7 linked regions of the Homo sapiens genome follow. The protein of the gene in region 2 purifies or fractionates together with the protein of the main gene of each other region. This does not show direct contact. Each region holds a gene or a part of one and is shown on either strand. Other genes may lie near its edges. The genes, in order: EFL1, ALAD, TOM1L1, SEPTIN10, WDR4, STAT5B and AGFG1.

Region 1 (3,500 bases), on a different chromosome or scaffold from region 2:
GGGAAGCTAGGCAGGACAGTTGCATAAACCCAGGAGTTTGAGGCTGCAAAGAGCTGTGACAGCAACTGCACTCCGGCCTGGTGGATAGCACAAGACGCCATCTCTTCAAAAACAACAACAATAACAACAAAACCTATGAGATATTGGAGAAAACTTAAATGGAAGGATATACCATATTTACGTATTGGCTGTCTATTTTTTAAATGACATTTAAAAAATATTGATCTGTAGATTCAGCAATTCCAGTAAAAATTCCAACAGATTTTTAAAAATTTCAACTTGATATGCTGATTTAAAAATATATACAGAAGAGCAAATAAACCAATTAATAGCCGGGACTGAAGAAGAGTAAGATATGGAAATACATCTTACCCACTGGCAAGACTTATCAATGTGTTGATGTGTTGTAACCTGTGGCCTGGAATCGGCTGAGGCATGAAATTGACTGACGGCTCAGAATAGTAGGCTGGCATTTCAGATCTGTGGGAAAAAGATGAACCTTTCAAGTGGTTCTTGGGCAACTGGTTATCCCTGTGGAAAAAAAAATTGGACCTCTAGTTAACACCACACACAAATTGCACAGTTAAGACATTTTTATTTAAAAGCTTTTTTATTTAAAAACTAAAGCTTTTAGAAAATAATATGGGCTAATATTTTTATGACCTTAAAGGAAGATTTCTTAAGACAAAAATGTGCAAACAATTTTATAAAAGGTTAATAAACTACTTAAAATTAAGTACATATTCATCAAAGATGCCAGAAAGAAATGGAAAAAACAAGCCTGGTAACTGTGAAAAATATTAATAACACACATATAATTGACAAAGGACTAATATTCAGAGACTATAAATAACTCCTATCCAAAACAAAATAAATCTGTATTGCAACCAGTAGGAAGGTGGACAAAAGCCTTGTATAGGCAATTCACAGAAAAGGAATGTTAAATGGCCAGTAAAAAACTTACAAAAGGATACTTAATCCCATTAATAATAGGATAAATGTAAATTTAAAACCATGAGATGCTATTTATCACCCATCTTACTTAGAAAATAAAGTCCAGCAATATCAGCTGTGGAGGTTATGGATCAAGAAACGCACTATTCCACTGTGGATCAGTCCAACAATTTGGAAAATAATTTGGAAATATCAAGTTAGGTTGAGGATGTGCAGATTTAATAACTCAGAAATTCTACTGGTAGGGAGTGTACAAGAGACCCACAACTGTTCATATCAACTCAGTAATAGTTACAAAAAACTGGAATCAGTCTCCATGTCCATCAGTACCCACCAGTTGAAGGTCTACATCTCATTCTCTAGACCTTGAAGTACATCAGTACTGACAGTGGTTTCATTTAAATAAAGATCCCATCCTTTTCCAACTCCTTAGCCCTAAGCACCAGACTAACCTCCTCCTCCTTTCTCCAGAATGATTTTCCCTTACCCTTCCTTCATTCTCTACAATGGACGAATGGGTCTGGTAGATTTGTGAGGTGGAGTCCTACAGTAATAAAAATGAATAAATTACGTCAATGTGGCTGAATCTCAGGAAAACAATATTGAGCAGAGAAAAAGTGACAGTATAATATATTAAGTATGATTCTTATAGAAGGCTTAAAACTTGCCACTCTAAATGATATATTGCTTAGTGACACACTCATTTTTAAAAATTATAAAGAAAATAAGGAAATGATCAAGATAAAATTCAAGATAGTGGTTACCTGTAAGCCAGGGGCACAGGGTACTTCAAAAGTAACAAACATTTTTTTTTTTCCTTTTGAAATGGGATGGTGCATACACAGGGGTTCATTGTGTTGTTATTTATGTATTACACGTTTCATACCAATTCAGTGCTTAAAAACATACATTATAGAAAACTGACAAGGGACTGAGACTTTCTGAAGGAAGGACTGACTGAGAGGTTGGAGAGGTGAAGGGAAACCAGCAGTGGGATCTAAGGAGAGATGGAGGTAAATTAAGAGGTTTCAGACTCTTGGAAGAATTTCACATATGCACGTAACACACATGCACACAAAGGGTAACTGTCATGCTGCACTGGAATCAAGAAAAATGAGGATTGAGAATGATTATTGCGTTTCGCCAGAGGTCATTGATAGCTTTTAGGACTTTGATTTTGCCAGAGCTGTGGAAATGGAAGCTTTTCTGAAAATTTCAGAATTAATATGGATGAATAAATGTGGCAGTTCATATCAACAGATAATTCTTGGTGCTTTTGAATGAAAGAAAGGAGAAAATAGACAGGTTAAGAATTTTTCAAAAGTTTGACAGTGGAGAGAATGGAGGAAGGGTAAGGGAAAATCATTCTGGAGAAAGGAGGAGAAGGTTAGTCTGGTGCTTAGGGCTAAGGAGTTGGAAAGGGATGGGATCTTTATTTAAACGACACCACTGTCAGTACTGATGCACTGCAAGGCCTAGAAAATGAGATGTAGACACTCATTGGTGGGTATTACAGTGTTATGAAAGTCATCAACTAAATGGTCATATTACAAATATTTTCTACTGTATTCTTTTTTTAAAAAAGATGTATTCAAAATCTATTAATTTGGGAAAGGAATAAAGACTTCTCTTGCTTCTAGAGACTTCTGTTTCAGTCTCTGCTCAGAATTTGTCAAACAGCTTATAAATAGGAAAAGAATGGCTATGTTATTGATGTTTAGAAAGAATTCCCTCAAATGCTACTGTCCGTAAGTTGTTCTTGACCTGCCCCATCATTCACGGCTGATATTTGGATGAGCAACACTCTGGGGAGGGTATGCAGTATTTCAATACATTTATGGTTCCTAGTGGTTATGTTTTTCAATTTTTCATGTTCCCTTCCCCTCAATCAACTTCACTTCTCCAGACCCCCATCATCTTAAAAAAAAAAAAAAGAGAGAGGGCTAGGCGCGGTAGCTCATGCCCGTAATGCCAGCACTTTGGGAGACTGAGGTGGGTGGATCACCTCAGGTCAGGAGCTCAAGACCAGCCTGGCCAGCATGGCGAAACCCTGTCTCTACTAAAAATACAAAAATTAGCCAGGTGTGTTAGCACATGCCTGTAATCTCAGCTGTTTGGGAGGCCTGAGGCAAGAGAATCACTTGAACCTGGGAAGTAGAGTTTGCAGTGAGCCGAGATTGTACCATTGCATTCCAGCCTGGGCAACAGAATAAGACTCTGTCTCAAAAAAAAAAAAGGCTCTATATAGGTTAAAATTTAAGTATTGGCTGGGCATGATGGTTCACACCTGTAATCTCAGCACTTTGGGAGGCCACGGTGGGAGGATCACTTGAGGCTAGAAGTTCAAGACTAGTGTGGGCAACATAGCAAGACCCTGTCTCTACAAAAATAAATAAAAATAACAAATTAAATATAAGTATTTAAAACAAAAATCTAAATTAGCAAATTTTAATGTTACATTTTAATTCTTTGGGAAGTGAAGATGCATATGTTGCATTTTTCCAGTTAAGGTACATGGACAGCAGAGAAGATGAACAGATCCGAGG
Region 2 (2,737 bases):
TTGTGGCGCCATCTCCCATCCCATTGTTTACAGTGACTGAGCCAAGAGTGGACCATGTGGCCTGAACAGGCCCAATCAGAGACCTCCAGAGATTTGCTATGTGAGTGATGGGACAGGAAGGCTCTTTCTCTGGGATTACAAATCTTAACGACTATTTAAGCCTAGAATTATTGAGGATCATGTTGCTGGCAAGTGGCAAAAACCCACCTGAGTATAAAGCTGGGGCAAACACAGACGAGAGTTAGAAAGGGACAGAGACCTCCATGGGGTTTGACCCTGGGCCCAACCACACCTGTCCTTATCTCAATCCAGTTATGAAAACCAATCATGTCCTTCTTTGCTATTGAACTGGATTTCCATCACTTGCAACCAAGTAGGTGCCTGGTCTCCTTGGTCTCCCCGTATAACTGGGGCTAATTGCAGATGGTCCCCGAACTGTGATCATTCAATTCACAATTTTTGACTTTACAACAGTATGAAACAAGACATTCAGTAGAAACTGTACTTCAAATATTGAATTTTTATTCAAAATTCTTTACAACTTTATTACAATATAGATTTTGTGTTGGATAGTTTTGCCCACTGTAGGCTAATGTAAGTGTTCTGAGCATGTTTAAGGCAGGCTAGGCTAAGCTATGATGTTTGGTAGGTTAGGTATATTAAATACATTTTTGACTTATGATCATATTTTCAACTTATGATCATATTTTCAACTTATGATGGGTTTATCAGGATGCAAACCCATCACATAAATGGAGGGGTGTCTATAAAACATTGTTAGACCTATAATTTTGCTGTTGATTATTGGGAGGTGGTATGGCACAGTGGTTAGGGGCAGAGGCCTTGGAGTTGGACTACATGGGTTCAAATCCCAGCTTGGCTGTTTTCTGTGCAGTTCTAATCCAGTTCTGCCACAAACTTGTTGAGTGGCCTTAGGTGAGTCACATAAGCACTCTAGATATAGCTTCCTTATTGCAAAATGTCTCAAGCTAAGTTTAGTATTCTCCCTCCACCCCGACCCTGCTTCTGTTCCTCTTCCAGGCTGCCCCATCTCAGTAAATGGCCCATCAGCCACCCAGAAGGTCAAGCCAGATTCATCCTTCACATCGAATCTACCTTCTAAACACATCCACAATCCATTCCCCTTTCTCCATCCCCACTGTCCCCGCTCCAGTCCATGCCATCAAGACTTTTCATTTGCACTTTGCCGCAGAGCTGTTAAAATACTTTTACAAACTACAAATTTGATTGAGTCACTCTGAAAAGGTGAATGTGGCCCTTGACCTCTGCATGGTTTGGTCCTGGTCTGTCTCTCTCCACTCAGTTCAGGCCATCCTCTCAGTGCTCCAGACAAGCTAGCCTTGCATTCCTCCAGCTAGAAGGAGCCCCAGGGCCTTTGCACAACTCCTCCCTCTCCCTGGAATGCTCTTCCCCAATTGTCTTAGCTTGATGGCTCACCCTTCAGGTCTAGGCTCAAATGTCAGTCCTTCAGGGAAGTATTTTCTGATCCTTCAAAGAGGTCAGGTCCTGGTGACCTCCTTCAGAGCACCTGTCACCACATCACTGGTGCATGTCTGCCTCCTTCCCAACTACTGTTTCAAGAGAGGCCCCTTCCCTGTTGTTGTCTCAGACCCCTTCTTTCCTTCAAAGCACTTATCACAATTTGTAACTGCTTTATTTCTTTGTTTTCTTCTTAGCTGTCTCCCCAATTCTCTTTGTATAATTTCTATGAAGAGATAAGCTGAGGTCTGTCCTGCTGTATTCCCAGGACCCAGCACTGAACCTAGGAACAGAGCAGAGATTCTCAAAAAGTATCTCCTGAATAAAAAGTGTTTGTGGTGGTGGCACCTCTAGCAGTCAGGAACTCCCTCTTTGCCTCTGAGTTTTGATCCTCAGGCAGTATTTATGCTGGTTAATGAGTAATTCTTCTCTGGGTTTATGGTTCAGAGTAGAATAGGAGACCTCAGGCAGCCTGGCAACCTCTGGCCTCGTGGGAAATGCCTTCCAGTGGAATTGCGGCAAATTTCAACTCTAACCCAGGGATATCGATCTAGGCCTCATTCCCACACCCAGCTCTGCTGCCAGAAGCGTTCCAAGGCTTCTCAGGCCCCAAGATCCCACTGCTCTCTTCTTCCCCTAATGCTCCAAGACCCTCTCCCAGCCAGGCCCCAAAGGCTGTGCCCCCGACTCCAGGTTGCTTTCAAGCTGAAGCCACACCAGAGGAAAGAGCTGAGGGTGGCAAAGGTGGGCCTCACGGCTGACCCAGGGGAGGGGCGGGGAAGCTTGGGAGAGCTCATAGGATGCAGCTGCGAGTTACAAGAGTTAGCATGCTGGCAAAACCACCCAGGGCTGCTGGGCCCCGCTAGCATGTGAGCAGGAAGAGGGCATGAGGGCACAGTTCTAAAAGCAGCATTTACTTTGGTTTTCACTTGTCTGAGGCCCCGGGAACGTTTTAAAGTTCTAGTTCTTGGGCCTGGCACTGTCTCCATCATTCCTCCTTCAGCCACTGCAGCAGCTGCGGTGTGTAGTAGGTGATGATGATGTCAGCACCTGTGTTGGGAGAGATGCAGAAAGTTGCTGGGGGGACGCTGATCAGCTCTGAGCACACCTTCTGCGATGGGAAGGCCAGGCGGGGAAGAAGGCTACCATGAAGAAGCACAGCCTGTGGGCACACCACATGAGACGGAGCCCAGCTTTGGGAAACTCTATTTCTTGGGCAAGTCATTTCCTCTTTTGG
Region 3 (3,500 bases), on a different chromosome or scaffold from region 2:
TCTTCATCTGTTAAATGGAGTTAATAATAGAACTACTTCACAGGGTTGTCAAGAGCATTGGTCAGGTGCCAGGCATTTCTATCAGTGACCCATCATTCTGGGATTTCTACAGAAGTGCCTCACTCCTCTCTCCCGTCTTCTCCATTCTGTGACCTTCAAGAGTTAAGGACAGGTAAGAGGTCAAAAAAAAAAAAAAAAGGTGAAGGGGGAAAATGCCTCTAAAACTATATTCAGATCCCAATGTGAAGGGTTTCTTTAATGATCAAATCATGAAGACCGTTCACAGCATTTCTGCTTATTCAGCGAGCCTATGCAAGATGTCCATTTTCTTCTTCATGTAACTAGAAACCAGGAGCTATGCTCACATATGCCCCAAAGTCCTCTTGATAAAGACTAATGCTCCTAACGCAGCGTGATGTTGGCTGATTAGTGCCGTGACCATGCACAGTCTTGGGCTGGGCTGAGATAAACAAAGGCGTGCAGAATAAATCAGAAAGCTACACAGCTCACTCTCAGGCAGCAGGCAGGGCTTGCAACACATACTAAAGTAAAAAGGACAACTCACCAACGTGACTGAAGAGGTCATATTGCCAAGGATGGTGGGAAAATGGGAACACATCAAATAAGAGTCCACACTTAAATCACAGACAATACAACACACAGGAGAATTGCTTAAACCAACATAGAACATTCTCCAAATCACGCCAGGCAGCAGAACTTGTTTGGAATTTAATGAGCTGAGAGCATCTCAGGATTCCACAAAGCTGTTCAAGTAAGGCAGAAAGCTTACAGGGAGGTATTTTTCAAAATTTCAATTCTCCTCATCTTAAATTATGGTTAATTAATACATGCACAAACTTTTTTTTTTTTTTTTTGAGAAGGAGTCTTGCTCTGTTGCTCAAGCTGGAGGACTGGAGGACAGTGGTGCGATCTCGACTCACCGCAATCTCCACCTCCCAGGTTCAGGCAATTCTCCTGTCTCAGACTCCCAAGTAGCTGGGACTACAGGCACACGCCACCACGCCCTGCTACTTTTTGTATTTTTAGTAGAGACGGGGTTTCACCATATTGGTCAGGCTGGTCTCGAACTTCTGACCTCAGGTGATCCACCTGCCTCGGCCTCCCGAAGTGCTGGGATTACAGGTGTGAGCCACCGTACCCAGCCACAAACTTTTTTTTTAAGAGTTGAGGTTTCTCTTTATCACTCAGGCTGAGTTGCAGTGGCATGATCATAGCTCGTTGCCATCTTGAATTCCTGGGCTCAAGTGATTGTCCTGCCTCAGCCTCCTAAGTGGCTGGGACTACAGATGCAGGCCACCACATCTGGCTAATTTTTAAACATTTTGTAGAGACGGGCTCTCACCATCTTGCCCAGGCTGTTCTCAAACTCCTGGGCTCAAGCGATCATCCCACCTCGGCCTCCCAAAGTGCTAGGATTATAGGCAGGAGCCACCACACCCAGCCACTACACAAACTTCTTGATCAGTTCACCATGTGTAATACATGTTAACCACTAATTCCTATCTCCTGACCAAGAAAAATTGATTTTTCAGGAACAAGCTCCTTCCATGAAATTAAATGCTATTAAATGCTATTATAAACAACTAAACTTTCTTTATTCTGCAATTCTCATAAATGAAGAGTTTTAAGTCATACTGTACACAACTCCTAGCTAACCTATTAGTTTTCTCAGAATACTTGCTTCTTATTTTTTACCCAGGATTAAAAATGTAACTATAGCTTGAGAAATCCTCGAGTCTTAATTATAAAATTAAAGTACTTACTGACAAGGTAAGTTGGATTTCTTTATGATTGTAGTTTTTGGAAATCCTTTTCTTCAAAGCTTTCACTGCATCTTTTGGCCTATAGCAATAAATACACTGAAATCACCAATTTAGGCATTGCTGAAAACAAGCAGTCTCTCTGAAAAGCAACATGCATTTGGAGAGAGGAATGGCTAAGGAGCAGAAAACTAAGGCCTTGGTTCTACTGTGGGACCCTATGCGAATGACTTAACTTCTTGAACCTAAATTTCTTCACGCATACAGGCAGACAATACCACCTAACCCCTTATGAGAATCAAATAAAATATTTTCGTACAAGACTATTACCTAGAAAGTACTACCCATGAAATGCACTCATTCCTGTATCCCTCTATCAATGCACAGAACCAACTTATAGGAAATGCAACTTCCGAAACAATGAATGTTACCATTTTTATTAAAACTATTAGTATTTCCTGAGCACCCTATAGACAAGGGGATGTAACAGGAATTACAACAAACTAGGTCAGCTGCCAATACGCCACAATTTTATGTTACAAAGAAAGGACTGTTTATAAGGGTCCAAATTTACTTTAAGATTCTCTTTTTGTATTATCAATGAATTGGTATTATCAATGAAAATGTTCCCAGAGGAACTAAACATGGTAAATAGGATTATAGGAAAAAAACCATACACACTTAAAAGTACTAACCATAAGCGCTTTCCATTTATTTATAATCAATAATTAAGTTTGATGTTTTCTTTATCAACATAAGCTAGACTAAATCTCTTTTACTGCCAGTTATCACTTTAATATGCCCAGGAAAATTACCAGAATTGTGTTCCTTAGAATAACTTGTAATTGACTACAAGCAAACCAGTTTGCTCTTCTTAATGACTTTTTTCTTATAACTTCGATTCTCGAAAGTTTAAGAAGTTTAAGAACAAACGATAGCACATGCTATAAGAATACAGCTTAAACATGGGTGAGTTGACATTCAGAAGGAAAAAAATTGTCCTGGGACAGGGAGGAAAAAAGACTGCTAGATTGTTTCCTGGTTACTAGAAATAATTGCTCAGAAATAGGTCACCACCGGGAGTCAACCAGCTTCTTGATAATATTTGATGGTTTCATCAAATACTGGCACTGGGAGCTGGAGATATTCCTAAAGAAGGACACAATCTCTCTTTTTCAATTTTTTTTTTTTTTTTTTTTTTGAGATAGAGTCTTGCTTTGTTACCCAGGCTGGAGTGCAGTGGCATGATCTCTGCTCACTGCAAGCTCCACCTCCCAGGCTCACGCCATTCTCCTGCCTCAGCCTCCCAAGTAGCTGGTACTACAGGCACCCGCCACCATGCCTGGCTAATTTTTTTTGTATTTTTTAGTAGAGATGGGGTTTCAACGTGTTAGCCAGGATGGTCTCCATCTCCCGACCTCATGATCCGCCCGCCTCGGCCTCCCAAAGTGCTGGGATTACAGGCGTGAGCCACTGCGCCCGGCCTTTTTCAATCTTTTAGAAGGAAGGAATTTGAGCTTCACAGTGACAAAATTTGAAACTATTAAAGAAACTGCCAAGAGGAGAAAAATTATAGTGGATTTATGGATACTCCACATGTTGAAGCAAGCAGCTGCCCCAATATTTCAACCTGACAAGTCTTCAAAAGATAGAGGGTGCCTAATGAATGATGAAAACACTCTTTCAACAACAAAACCGAAATATTTGCAAGAGAAAACG
Region 4 (3,500 bases), on a different chromosome or scaffold from region 2:
CTGGCTAACACGGTGAAACCCCATCTCTACTAAAAATACAAAAAAATTAGCCGGGCATAGTGGCAGATGCCTGTAGTCCCAGCTACTCGGGAGGCTGAGGCAGGAGAATGGTGTGAACCTGGGAGGTGGAGATTGCAGTGAGCCGAGATCATGCCACTGCACTCCAGCCTGGGCGACAGAGCGAGACTCTGCCTCAAAAAAAAAAAAAAAAAAGAATTAAAAAAAAAATTAGCCAGGTGTGGTGGTGTGTGCCTGTAATCCCAGCAACTTGGGAGGCTGAGACAGGAGAATTGCTTGAACCTAGGAGGCAGAGGTTGCAGTGGTTGAGACTGCGCCACTGCACTCCAGCCTGGGTGACAGAGCGGGACCCCATAGAAAGAAAGAAAGAAAAAGAAAGAAAGGAAAGAAGGGAAGGGAAGGGGAGGGGCGGGGCGGGGAGAAAAGAAAGAAAGAAAAAAGAAAGAAAGAAAAGAAAAGAGGCCGGGCGTGGTGGCTGAGGCCTGTAATCCTAGCACTTTGGGAGGCCGAGGCGGGTGGGATCACGAGGTCAGGAGATCGAGACCATCCTGGCTAACATGGTGAAACCCTGTCTCCAGTAAAAATACAAAAAATTAGCCAGGCATGGTGGCGGGTGCCTGTAGTCCCAGGTACTCAAGAGGCTGAGGCAGGAGAATGGCATGAACCGGGGAGGCGGAGCTTACAGTGAGCCAAGATTGAGCCACTCCAGCCTGGGTGACAGAACGAGACTCTGGGGAGGGGAGGGGAGGGACAACACAGTAGTGGAATCTGCGTGTGCCAAGGGTACAAATATAACTGGTATGGTTGGAAAATCACAGTGAGCTCATCACTGAAGCCCAAGGAGGCTTACATGTAAATGCAAGGACAGCAGAAAAGGTGAGGCTGCAAGAAGCTGACTTCATGATTCTGAGTCCAAGTGACTCAAACTAAGGTCACTGGAGAGACGTCACTGTGAAGCAGGAAAGAGAATAGGAGAGGAATCAGCACAGGTTTGATGCAACTTTGGAACTACTGAGTTTAAGGTTCCTATGAGCACCTTGGATCCCTCAAAGAACTTTTATGTAAAATTTTACATTATCAAAAACAAATATACGTGGCCCAGTGGTAATTCTCACTTCTCTTGAAGTTTCCATTGATTCCTTGAGACTTGAATTGTTCTACACTGATAAGAGCATTAAAGATTCAGCTTAATTCATCAAGCCAGTCAGGCTTAGTTTTTGGGCTGAATATAATTATACCATATTACTAGTATGATCAGGCAGATCACCTGAGGTCAGGAGTTTGAGACCAGCCTGCCCAACATGGTGAAACTCTGTCTCTACTAAAAATACAAAAATTAGCCAGGCATGGTGGCAGGTGCCCGTAATCCCAGCTACTCAGGAGGCTGAGGCAGGAGAATCGTTTGAACCCGGGAAATGGAGGTTGCAGTGAGCTGAGATCGTACCACTGCACTCTACTCTGAGCGACAAGAGTGAAACTCCATTTCAAAAAATAATAATAAATAAATAAATAAATTGTACTTGAATAACAAAGTTAATTCATAAAAGTATAACATAATTTTCTGACTAAAAGGTAGGTAAATGGGAAAGTGTAGCTAAAAAAGCTAATCAGAATACCTGAGGATAAGCTAAATAATATCTGTATAATTTTTGTAATCAACAAAAAAGAAAATATATAGCAAAATATGCAAATACAAAACAAAATTATTTTCTCCAACTGTTCAAATTATAATGCTGTATTAGGTTCTTTAGTCCTCAGAGTTACATGGAAACTGTAAATTATAATTCTTTTCTATACAACAGAATTTCTGTTACTATGTGACAAGCAGCCTATCTTCTACCAAAACAGAGAGCCCCCAGAAATTCTCTCAATGATCCATGTCACAAAGAAGAAGAGTTAGCATGACATCAGTATAAATGTATGTTAAGAAGGCTGTTAGAATTAACTGTATAGTAGCAACAGATGCAAAATGCTGCATCATTAAGAACTGCCAAAGCCTGGAATGAGGTCTGGGGCAAGGAGGTACAAAGACAACATGGAGGAAACAAAAGACATTTTGTGCAAGGATGTGTGAAAGTTGCATCTCATCCAAAAAACTAGAGATAACAGTACTCAGCTCATGGGCTGGGAGAATAAAATGTGGTAACACAGGCCGGGTGCCGTGGCTCATGCCTGTAATCCCAGCACTTTGGGAGACCAAGGAGGGAGGATTACAAAGTCAAGAGATTGAGACCACCCTGGCCAACATGGTGAAACCCCGCTTCTACTAGAACTACAAAAATTAGCTGGGTGTGGTGGCACATGCCTGTAATCCCAGCTACTCCGGAGGCTGAGGCAGGAGAATCGTTTGAACCCGGGAGGCAGAGGTTGCAGTGAGCCAACACTGCACCACTGCATTCCAGTCTGGCGACAAAGCAAGACTCTGTCTCAAAAAACAAAAAATAAAAAATAAAATGTGATAACACAAGGGAAGTACTTGCCATGGTGAATGCACTTCAGCATCTGGTAGCATTCAATTACCATAGTGGACATAGTTATAGCCATAAAGGACAAGTCCACAGAAAAATATATCTTGACTACTTTATTACCTGCAAAGATCTTCAGAGATTACTAGGCCACTAAAAGTTGAAAATAATAGCTAAAAAGTTCCCTTTTATTAAAAAAAAAATTGCACTAAAAATTTTAAGCTTTTTTTTTTTTTTTTTTTTTTTTTGAGATGGAGTCTCACTCTGTCACTCAGGCTGGAGTGCAGTGGTGCAATGTCGGCTCACTGCAACCTCCGTCTCGCAGGTTCAAGCGATTCTCCTGCCTTAGCCTCCCGAGTAGCTGGGACTACAGGCACGCACCACTAGGCACAGGGTTTTACCATGTTGACCAGGCTGGTCTCAAACTCCTGACCGGAGGTGACCCACCCACCTCAGCCTCCCAAAGTGCTGGGATTACAGGCATGAGCCACCACGCCCAGCAAAGCTATTTCTTTCATGAATAGTGAAGAATTGAAAGGCTTCTCATGTTATTTTAAGTTTCAGCATATAAACAGTGTCAGACAGTGAATATTCTTCCTGTCTAAAATGTCTAGCCTGCTCTTCTCCGCTAATCCATGGCCATCGCTTCGTTTACTATTTAGCTCAATATTGAGCTTTTTGTAAAAAGCTTTCATTCTACTTATTTAAAGGTAGTATAAATCATAATCACACAAATAATTTGTATTTTCCAAAAATTCATATTAGTAAGCTGCTTGGAGTAAGACTACAGTCTCCATAGAAACAATATTACAAACAGCTAAGGTCCTGAGTAAGTTCTTGAATGCCTCATTTAACTTATAATGTACAGAGTATTTAGTCTTAGACTGTTTTCAAATCTAGTAGCAGACTCAGAAGAAAAAACATATGTTGCCCTATTGCTAGGATGGCTAACCATGGATCATGCATTCTCAATGGGGGCAGTACCTGTATTATCTCTCCCCCTAAAGAGAGCAGAAA
Region 5 (3,500 bases), on a different chromosome or scaffold from region 2:
ACTGGCCTCCCCATCCCCACGGATCCACTCCCCATCCACTCTTCAGATACTCAGACATATGTGCACTAAACCCACCTAGCTTAATACTATGGTACAGACCCCTCAACAGACCCCAAATCCCTATCACTCTCCAGGGCAGGCTCACAGCCTTGTTCCTGCTAATCACAAGGACAGAGGACTGCCCTGGAAAACAGGGGCACCAACACTGTAGGTGGAGGGACCAGCAGCAGGGCCCGGCTCTGTCTTCCGAGCCCACTGATCGGAGTCTGCTATCTAACTGTTCACCACCCAGCGTGGGACAGAACAGCACCCCTGCACCCTCCCAGAACTGCCGTGAGGATCAGATCAGCCAACACACATGTGGCACTGAAAGTGGTGTCTGGCACTGAACTGCGGCTCCGTGTCAACCACTTATCACCCTTATCACCATGTTATGGTCACTATTGCTACAGGCATGCAAGGATAAGGTGTGCATTCGACATCTTAAGAATCCAGCGTTAGCATCTCATACCTGACACTCAGACATTGCCATGGTTTTGTACGGAAAAGAATCAGACGCTTACTGTCATCGGTTAAAGCAAAATAGCTGCCAGACTTGGAGAAGGTGGACGCCAGAATCGCACCGCTCCCCTGGTCCAAGGGCGCGTCCTCCCTGAGGAAGAGAGGAGGAAGACGGTTAAGCTTCACCTAAGGAAATAAGGCTGCATTCCTTGTTGGCCAGCGTGGTAATTTCTAACATGGGAGGAGGTAGAAACTGTTAAGGGGATCACGTAGCCAAAATACAGACATATTAAAGGGACATGGGGAAGTTCAAAACAGCTCTAATTTTATCAGCATGAAGCCTAACTAAACAGAAAATCTCCCAGCATACATGCCAGAACCCAGAGAGCTAAGCTGGAAGAACCCTCAATGACACATGGCCCTCTTCCTCATGGGCAAGGACTAACCCAAGGCTAGAGGCAGGGATAAACTCACATTAACAATACTAATAACAGGCCAGGTATGGTAGCTCAGACCTATAATCTCAGCACTTTGGTGTTGCGAGAAGTCAGGGACCCCAAACGGAGGGACCAGCTGAAGCCATGGCAGAAGAATGTGGATTGTGAAGATTTCATGGACATTTATTAGTTCCCCAAATTAATACTTTTATAATTTCTTATGCCTGTCTTTACTGCAATCCCTAAACATAAATTGTGAAGATTTCATAGACACTTATCACTTCCCCAGTCAATACCCTTGTGATTTCCTATGCCTGTCTTTACTTTAATCTCTTAATCCTGTCAGCCGAGGAGGATGTATGTCACCTCGGGACCCTGTGATAATTGCGTTGACTGCACAAATTGTAGAGCATGTGTGTTTGAACAATATGAAATCTGGGCACCTTGAAAAAGAACAGGATAACAGCAATGTTCAGGGAACAAGAGAGATAACCTTAAACTCTGACCGCTGGTGAGCCAGGCGGAACAGAGCCATATTTCTCTTCCTTCAAAAGCAAATGGGAGATATATAGCTGAATTCTTTTTCTCAGCAAGGAACATCCCTGAGAAAGAGAATGCGCCCCTGAGGGTGGGCCTCTGAAATGGCCCCCTTGGGTGTGGCCATCTTCTGGTCGAGACTGTAGGGATGAAATAAGCCCCAGTCTCCCATAGCGCTCCCAGGCTTACTAGGATGAGGAGATTCCCGCCTAATAAATTTTGGTCAGACCGGTTACTCTCAAACCCTGTCTCCTGATAAGATGTTATCAATGACAGTGGTGCCCGAAACTTATTAGCAATTTTAATTTTGCCCCGGTCCTGTGGTCCTGCGATCTCGCCCTGCCTCCATTTGCCTCGTGATATTCTATTACCTTGTGAAGCATGTGATCTCTGTGACCCACACCTATTCGTACACTCCCTCCCCTTCTGAAAATCCCTAATAAAAACTTGCTGGTTTTACGGCTCAGGAGGCATCACGGAACCTACCGACATGTGATGTCTCCCCCGGACGCCCAGCTTTAAAATTTCTCTCTTTTGTACTCTGTCCCTTTATTTCTCAAACCGGCCGACGCTTAGGGAAAATTGAAAAGAACCTACGTGAAATATCGGGGGTGAATTTTGCCCAATATCTGGCTGAATTTCCCCCAATACTTTGGGAGGACAAGGCGAGAGGATCGCTTGAGCTCAGGAGTTCAAGACCAGCCTGGGTAACATGGCGAAACCACGTCTCTACAAAAAACTACAAAAATTAGGCAGCCCTGGCGCGGTGCCTCACACCTGTAATCCCAGCACTTTGGGAGGCCAAGGCAGGTGGATCACGAGGTCAGGAGATCGAGACCATCCTGGCCAACATGGTAAAACCTCGTCTCTACTAAAAATACAAAAAAAAAATTAGCCGGGCATGGTGGTGCGTGCCTGTAGTCCCAGCTACTCAGGAGGCTGAGTCAGGAGAACCACTTAAACCAGGGAGGTGGAGGTTGCAGTGAGCCAAGATAGCGCCACTGCACTCCAGCCTGGCAACAGGGCAAGACTCCATCTCAAAAAAAAATTAGGTATGTTGGCATGTGCCTGTAGTCCCAGGTACTTAGGGGGATGAGGCGGGAGATCACCTGAACCCAGGAGGTCGAGGCTGCAGGGAGTTATGTTTGTGCAACTGCACTCCAACCGGGGTAACAGAGAGACCCTGTCTCAAAAAATAATAATAACGATAAAACAAACTGAGCCACAATACCAATGATAACTAAAGAAAGCCACCATACGAAACACTCACATGCTCTACTTTTATATCTCAATTAGCTGAAGTTAACTTCCTACACCCGCCTTCAACCATTACTTCAAGGAGCCAGTAAGATGTGATTACTGACAGAAACTAAAAGTATTTAGAAAAGTCCTAACACTGTGCTTTTTTTTTTTTTTTTTTTGAGACGGAGTCTTGCTGTGTCACCCAGGTTGGAGAGTGCGGTGGCGCAACCTCGGCCGACTGCAACCTCCGCCTCCTAGGTTCAAGTGATTCTCCCACCTCAGCCTCCCAAGTAGCTGGGACTACAGGCGCCCACCAGCATGCCTGGCTATTTTTAGTAGAGATGGAGTTTCATCACATTGGCAAGGCTGGCTTTGAACTTCTGACCTCAGTCAGCACCCTGGCTTCCCAAAGTGCTGAGATTATAGGCATGAGCCACCGCACCCGGCACTAACACTGTACTCTTTTTTTTTTTGGGAGACAGAGTCTTGCTCTATTCCCCAGGCTGGAGTGCAATGCCGCAATCTCAGCTCTCTGCAACCTCCGCCTCCCAGGTTCAAGTGATTCTTGTGCCTCAGCCTCCCAAGTAGACGGGATTACAGGTGCCTGCCACCACGCCCAGCTAACTTTTTTATTTTTAGTAGAGACAGGGTTTCGCCATGTTGGCCAGGATGGTCTGGAAATTCTGACCTCAGGTGATCCACCCACCTTGGCCTCCCAAAGTGCTGGGATTACAGGCATAAGCCACCGTGCTCAGCCAACAATGTACTCTTAATGCCTAACCT
Region 6 (2,358 bases), on a different chromosome or scaffold from region 2:
GCACCCTGGAATTGCCACTCAGTTCCTCTGGGTGTGCACATATGTTTGGAGAAATAGAGGAGAGAAAAGAGGGCCACGTAACTGAGAGCTTACAGTGCCAATGCCGTTTGTGTTCTGGCCAGAGTGGAGTGCGCAGCCCTGACTCCCAGGCGCTGAGATTGTTGCCTGGTTACCCAGGAAGCTGCTGTTCCGGCTGCCCAGCCTTTCTCTGAGCCAGCGGATGCACAGTCCGTGGCCTTCTTCAGGCTTATTGATGATGCTTTTTGCAAATGTTGAATCATGGTTCTGTTTCTAAGTTGGATCTTTTTTGTTTTCTCCTTGCCACCCTAATTTGACATCAAAATTCTCTCTTGTGCATTGGGCCCTGGGTCATTCAAACCCAGGTCACCTCATTCCCCTTCTCTGTTCACACCTAATGTCTTGAAGAGTAGGTAGCAGCAGTGTGGGCTGAACCTAGGCCAGCTTGCTTAGCGGGTCACCCTGCTGTGAAGTCCTGGCAGGTGTTGGTAATGTGTGGAAATGCAGTCAGCAAGTTTGCTGGGGAGTTTGATAAAAGTATAAAACAAAACAAAAAAAGCCTCGGTATAATTTTGTTCCACGACTTCTTCTGTAGCTTTACACCAGAAGGAAGGAATGGGCTACAGCAGGTAGTGGAGGAAGAGGGGGGTGAGCAGGTGTATTAAAATAGCTTACGGGTAAGGCCTAAAAGGTCACCCCTCGGCCCCCTCTCCAAAAGAAGGGCATGGGCACCCCCAGGAGAGGATGGCCCCAAAAACCTTATTTTTATACATGAGAGTAAATAAACATATTTTTTTTACAAAAATAACTTCTGAATTTATCAGTGTTTTGCCGTTAAAAATATTCCTCTATAGTAAATTATTTATTGGAAGATGACTTTTTTAAAGCTGCCGTTTGCCTTGGCTTGGTTTCATACACTGATTTATTTTTCTATGCCAGGCAGTAGAGTCTCTCTGCCTCTGAGGAGCAGGCTACCCGCATCCCACTCAGCCCCTCCCTACCCCTCAAGATTTGATGAAAATTCCAACCATGAGGATGGGTGCATCGGGGAAGGGTGAGAAGGAGAGCCTGCCTGCTCAGGGATCCAGGCTCGTAGAGTCACTCCCTGCCCGTCTCCCAGAGATGCTTCACCAGCACCTGCCTCTGAGACCTCGCTCTCTGTTCCAGCAACCCTGGTTGGGGGGTCAGACTTGATACACTTTCAGGTTGGGAGTGGACCCACCCCAGGGCCTGCTGAGGACAGAGCAGCCAGGCCGTCCTGGCTCACTTTGCAGTTGGCACTGGGTTGGGGAGGAAGAGAGCTGATGAGTGTGGCTTCCCTGAGCTGGGGTTTCCCTGCTTGTCCAGTTGTGAGCTGTCCTCGGTGTTACCGAGGCTGTGCCTAGAGAGTGGAGATTTTTGATGAAAGGTGTGCTCGCTCTCTGCGTTCTATCTTCTCTCTCCTCCTTGTTCCTGCAAACCACAAGATAAAGGTAGTGGTGTGTCTCGACCCCATCAGCCTCTCACCCACTCCCAGACACACACAAGTCCTCAAAAGTTTCAGCTCCGTGTGTGAGATGTGCAGGTTTTTTCTAGGGGGTAGGGGGAGACTAAAATCGAATATAACTTAAAATGAAAGTATACTTTTTATAATTTTTCTTTTTAAAACTTGGTGAAATTATTTCAGATACATATTTTAGTGTCAAGGCAGATTAGTTATTTAGCCACCAAAAAAAAGTATTGTGTACAATTTGGGGCCTCAAATTTGACTCTGCCTCAAAAAAAAGAAATATATCCTATGCAGAGTTACAGTCACAAAGTTGTGTATTTTATGTTACAATAAAGCCTTCCTCTGAAGGGATGGTATTGAGTCCTGTTTTTACTTTTTTCTGTCACATGCCAAGGGAGGGCAGCTTGAACACGGAAAAGTTTCAAGTCATCAGCGTGACCCTGAAAAAGGGAACTGGTTGGGTGGTTGGGAGTTGGCTGCCTCAGAGGGCACGTCATTAGCTCTGATGGCAGATGGGGCCTTTCATACCTTCCTGCTCATATGATGTTTTGAAAATAAGAATGATGGTCTCCTAGCCTCCTGACTCCAGAAAGCTTGTTAGCCAGGATGGTCTCGATCTCCTGACCTCATGATCTGCCCACCTCAGCCTCCCAAAGTGCTGGGATTACAGGCGTGAGCCACTACGCCCGGCTGAAAGCCTGTCCTTAAGATTCAGCACATTTAGAGTACCTGACCCTGAGTTCAGCGTTGTGTGTGGGATGAGAAATGGTGCCTTCCCTGCAGAGGCTCACAGTTGGAGAAAGGCAGCTACCACAACTGATTATGCTAGGATATCGCTTCCTGCTGCAATC
Region 7 (3,500 bases), on a different chromosome or scaffold from region 2:
AATCAAAACAGTATGCTAAGAAACAGAAACACTGCACATATCACACACCTGATAAATTGTACAAATGGAAATTTAAAACAATCATTCATTAGGTACACTTGAATTAAACTTTTTTTAAAGTTAAATTTTGTGTGAAATTCCAATACTTATCAAACATCTATTATGCTACTTACCAACAGAGTATAAGTGAAGACATTTATGTGAAAAGAAAATAGTTACAGCTCAAACTCCTAATACTGTGATTCTTAATCTTGTCAATGACAAAGAGATTTACTAAAAACTAGTAATTCTTAATGGTTTGATTAAAATGTTACAAGTACCTAATCTCTCAAGAGTTCATATCAACATTTGCTATAACTGGAGTTTAGGCTTTAGTTCTAAATTATTGTGACATATACACAAAAACAAAGCATACAAACTCTAGATTTAATGGATACCCAGCCATACCAAATGCACCTGCTGACATTCCAAGATACTGGCAAATATCTCTGGTGTTTAAGGTAATACGACAAAAATCAGAGGTATAACATGAGAAAGATGTGAATGGCTTACAGTATGAATCAAAAAATAAAATGGAGACAACAAAGAGAATTAAGGGAAAAAATTATCAAAAGAGAAAATATTCAGTATTATACCCACGACTGAATCAAGTTTCCACAACTTAAAAAATGTTAACACCTGAAAGAGATATTCACTAGAAAAAGACCTAATAATTAAGAATTCATGTAGTAAAGTCATCTGATGCAATCTCATAGGGAAAATAAAAACTTCTCATAAAATGGTTCCATTAAGACTGCATGAGTGACAACCAGTAATTCTGAAACCAGACCACCAAATACATCTAAATTGCTCTGTTCAAGTCCTATCTCTGTCATAAACGTTCTGTGGAGTCTCATCTCCATGTCTGGGCTTCCCTACCTGAAAAATGAAAGCTTTAACTGGAAAGGGCAGACACTAGATAATTTCTAAGGTCCCTCTCAACTGTTAAATTCCAGGATTTTATGAACTTTCAGCTAGAATTTGTCTTTATGGACAAACTCTTCTATCCATTGCCATTCACTTCACTAAGAAAGAGGCCCCATTTTCTGGTGTTCTTCACATGGTGTCTTTGTTGATAAATGTCTTCCCCAAAACTTACTGTTCCACTGTCTCTTTTTCTTACCTGTTGCTCCTCTGGCATTGGTCTGAAATGGGTTTGTAGAAGATGCCACAGAAGGACCAGCAGCAGCAACAAATGGATTTGTGGAAGGCGTAGCTTTAAAAAATTATAAAATACACTATAAAATCCTAATACATTTTGTATTTAAGATTTAAATTATTTCACTATATTTATCAAGACAGAAAACTCAAGGATTCTGATAACAAATCATTGCTTTGACTCCTAAGAAAATGCTACACAATATATATTTGGGTTCTTTGTAAAAACCAGTGTATATACCAGAAGCACATACCTCCAAATGGAGCAGGCACACTTGATGAAGCAGGCTGTGTCTGTGCAGAAGCAACCACTGGCACTGTTCCAAAAACATTGCTGAGAACAAATATTGAAAGAGTTCATTTTTTTTCTTAAAAAAAAAAGAAAGTAACGATTTACAGGGTAGCCATAAAATAATGAACATATCGTGTATCACAGCATCAGTATCAACACAAAGAAAATTAAGACATTTAAGTGTAAAGATGTAATAAAATAAACAATTGTTACTGCTTCATTAAGAATCATCATAAAAAAATAAAAAATACAAGTAAAACTGAATGTGTAGTGGGAAGGAATATGACTATTGTAACGACTAGTACAGTTTGGTGCCACTATCTTAATATTCATGTTAAAACACCAGCAAAAACCATTATTCTAAGCAAACTATATCACAAGGACAGAAAACCAAACACTGCATGTTTTCACTCATAGGTGTGAGTTGAACAACAAGAACAACACATGGACACAGGGTGGGAAACATCACACTTGGGGGCCTGTCGGGGGTGGGGGGCTGGGGGAGGGATAGCATTAGGAGAAATACCTAATGTAAATGATGAGTTGATGGGTGCAGCAAACCAACATGGCACATGTATACCTATGTAACAAACCTGCACGTTGTGCACATGTACCCTAGAACTTAAAGTATTAAAAAAAAATAAAAAGACACCAGCAAGTTTTACTTGCCATTGTTTTCACACCATCAATGCAAATATCAATTAATGAAAAGGTAAACAATCTCTCAGAATTATTATAAAGAAAGTTTTAACCTCACAGACCCCATGAAAGGGTCTCAGGTACCCCAAACATTCCATGGACCACAGTTTGTGAACCCCTGATGTACTGTAATGTAATATCAATAAATCATGTATTATATATAAAGTATGTTTCCAGACTTTATGTTTCCGGAAGTGTTACAATCCTAACATTTCTTTCTAGAAAAGATGCTAAAGGAAAATAAGCTACCAGGATAACTAAAGAAATTAGTAAATACAATCCACAGGATTGGAAAACAGAGATGAATAAAACATTGTTATAGGTAAATCTCTTGTATTTCTGAGACTATTTCCGCAACTCTAAAATAAAGACTAGAAAAGTTTTTTACAAGTGTAATGTCCTAAAATGTGTTAGACTTCCTACTGCCAAGAATTCTAACAGATATATATGAACATAACAGCAGATGTGCTTATTTGTAAATATGAGGATGACACTGAAGAGATACAGAATTGATTTTGGGCTTTGGTGCAAACACTTCTAAAAATCTGTATTTACAACTAAGCCTATAATATGGGACTTTCACTGTTTAATCATCATGACTAAAAACTATTTTTAAAGTATATTATTTGACTACTAAATGGATTCTCTGCTGAGTACAATCTGTAAGGAACTGTCCATTTTGAGATGTGTACATGCTCTCAAATACGGTTTAGTGTTCAAGGACAGAACATAACAAAACGTCTGATTCAATGAAAAGATAAAATTATGGCAATTATTCAAGGATTATATTTTAATTAGCATTTAAATTCAAATTCCTCAAATTTACAAAAATATCCAAGAATTTTAAAATTATACCTTGAAACAGTCATTTTTTAATTGATTATTCAAAGTTGGAAAAAAAAGATAAAACACAAAGCAGGAGGGCTAGCTAAGACAAGGTACCTGCTAGCATTACTTGTGGAAGTATACGCATTACTGGAGGTGGCTGCAGAACTGAAAACGCTGTCTAGTTCTGCCAGAGCTGCATACTTGTCTGAAGATGCACTTGACTGACTGGGAACTGAAACCACAGAACCAACAGGAGCTTTACCTGTGGTCCCAAAGCCACTTCCCTGATCACCACCTGGGAACGAACAAAATCAAGTTACACCAAAAATTTAAAGTTACACTTTCAACTTATCAACCACATTTGCCATGAAACACAGGTAAACTTAAAATGGATTTAGAGTTAAGCAGGATTCCAAATCATTAATCTAATAAATAACCTGGACCATACTGGACAGGATTAGTTGTTATACATACCACTGTGATA

What was found.
Region 1: the proteins of ALAD (region 2) and EFL1 fractionate together in Homo sapiens (co-fractionation; one large-scale study listed by BioGRID). This does not show direct contact.
Region 3: the proteins of ALAD (region 2) and TOM1L1 fractionate together in Homo sapiens (co-fractionation; one large-scale study listed by BioGRID). This does not show direct contact.
Region 4: the proteins of ALAD (region 2) and SEPTIN10 fractionate together in Homo sapiens (co-fractionation; one large-scale study listed by BioGRID). This does not show direct contact.
Region 5: the proteins of ALAD (region 2) and WDR4 fractionate together in Homo sapiens (co-fractionation; one large-scale study listed by BioGRID). This does not show direct contact.
Region 6: the proteins of ALAD (region 2) and STAT5B fractionate together in Homo sapiens (co-fractionation; one large-scale study listed by BioGRID). This does not show direct contact.
Region 7: the proteins of ALAD (region 2) and AGFG1 fractionate together in Homo sapiens (co-fractionation; one large-scale study listed by BioGRID). This does not show direct contact.

What each region holds. Positions count from the first base shown.
Region 1 is NC_000015.10:82,252,735-82,256,234, reverse strand, and holds part of EFL1 (elongation factor-like GTPase 1), read left to right. Parts: intron 1-3,459; coding exon 3,460-3,500. UniProt on the Homo sapiens protein: GTPase involved in the biogenesis of the 60S ribosomal subunit and translational activation of ribosomes.
Region 2 is NC_000009.12:113,385,812-113,388,548, forward strand, and holds the end of ALAD (delta-aminolevulinic acid dehydratase), read right to left. Parts: intron 2,551-2,737; coding exon 2,489-2,550; 3' UTR 501-2,488; downstream 1-500.
Region 3 is NC_000017.11:54,903,852-54,907,351, reverse strand, and holds part of TOM1L1 (TOM1-like protein 1), read right to left. Parts: intron 1,864-3,500; coding exon 1,785-1,863; intron 574-1,784; exon of another isoform or gene 566-573; intron 1-565. UniProt on the Homo sapiens protein: Probable adapter protein involved in signaling pathways. Interacts with the SH2 and SH3 domains of various signaling proteins when it is phosphorylated. May promote FYN activation, possibly by disrupting intramolecular SH3-dependent interactions.
Region 4 is NC_000002.12:109,603,967-109,607,466, forward strand, and holds part of SEPTIN10 (septin-10), read right to left. Parts: intron 1-3,500. UniProt on the Homo sapiens protein: Filament-forming cytoskeletal GTPase. May play a role in cytokinesis.
Region 5 is NC_000021.9:42,873,040-42,876,539, forward strand, and holds part of WDR4 (tRNA (guanine-N(7)-)-methyltransferase non-catalytic subunit WDR4), read right to left. Parts: intron 653-3,500; coding exon 512-652; intron 1-511. UniProt on the Homo sapiens protein: Non-catalytic component of the METTL1-WDR4 methyltransferase complex required for the formation of N(7)-methylguanine in a subset of RNA species, such as tRNAs, mRNAs and microRNAs (miRNAs).
Region 6 is NC_000017.11:42,198,677-42,201,034, reverse strand, and holds the end of STAT5B (signal transducer and activator of transcription 5B), read left to right. Parts: 3' UTR 1-1,858; downstream 1,859-2,358. UniProt on the Homo sapiens protein: Carries out a dual function: signal transduction and activation of transcription. Mediates cellular responses to the cytokine KITLG/SCF and other growth factors. Binds to the GAS element and activates PRL-induced transcription.
Region 7 is NC_000002.12:227,534,656-227,538,155, reverse strand, and holds part of AGFG1 (arf-GAP domain and FG repeat-containing protein 1), read right to left. Parts: intron 3,312-3,500; coding exon 3,131-3,311; intron 1,532-3,130; coding exon 1,452-1,531; intron 1,256-1,451; coding exon 1,163-1,255; intron 1-1,162. UniProt on the Homo sapiens protein: Required for vesicle docking or fusion during acrosome biogenesis. May play a role in RNA trafficking or localization.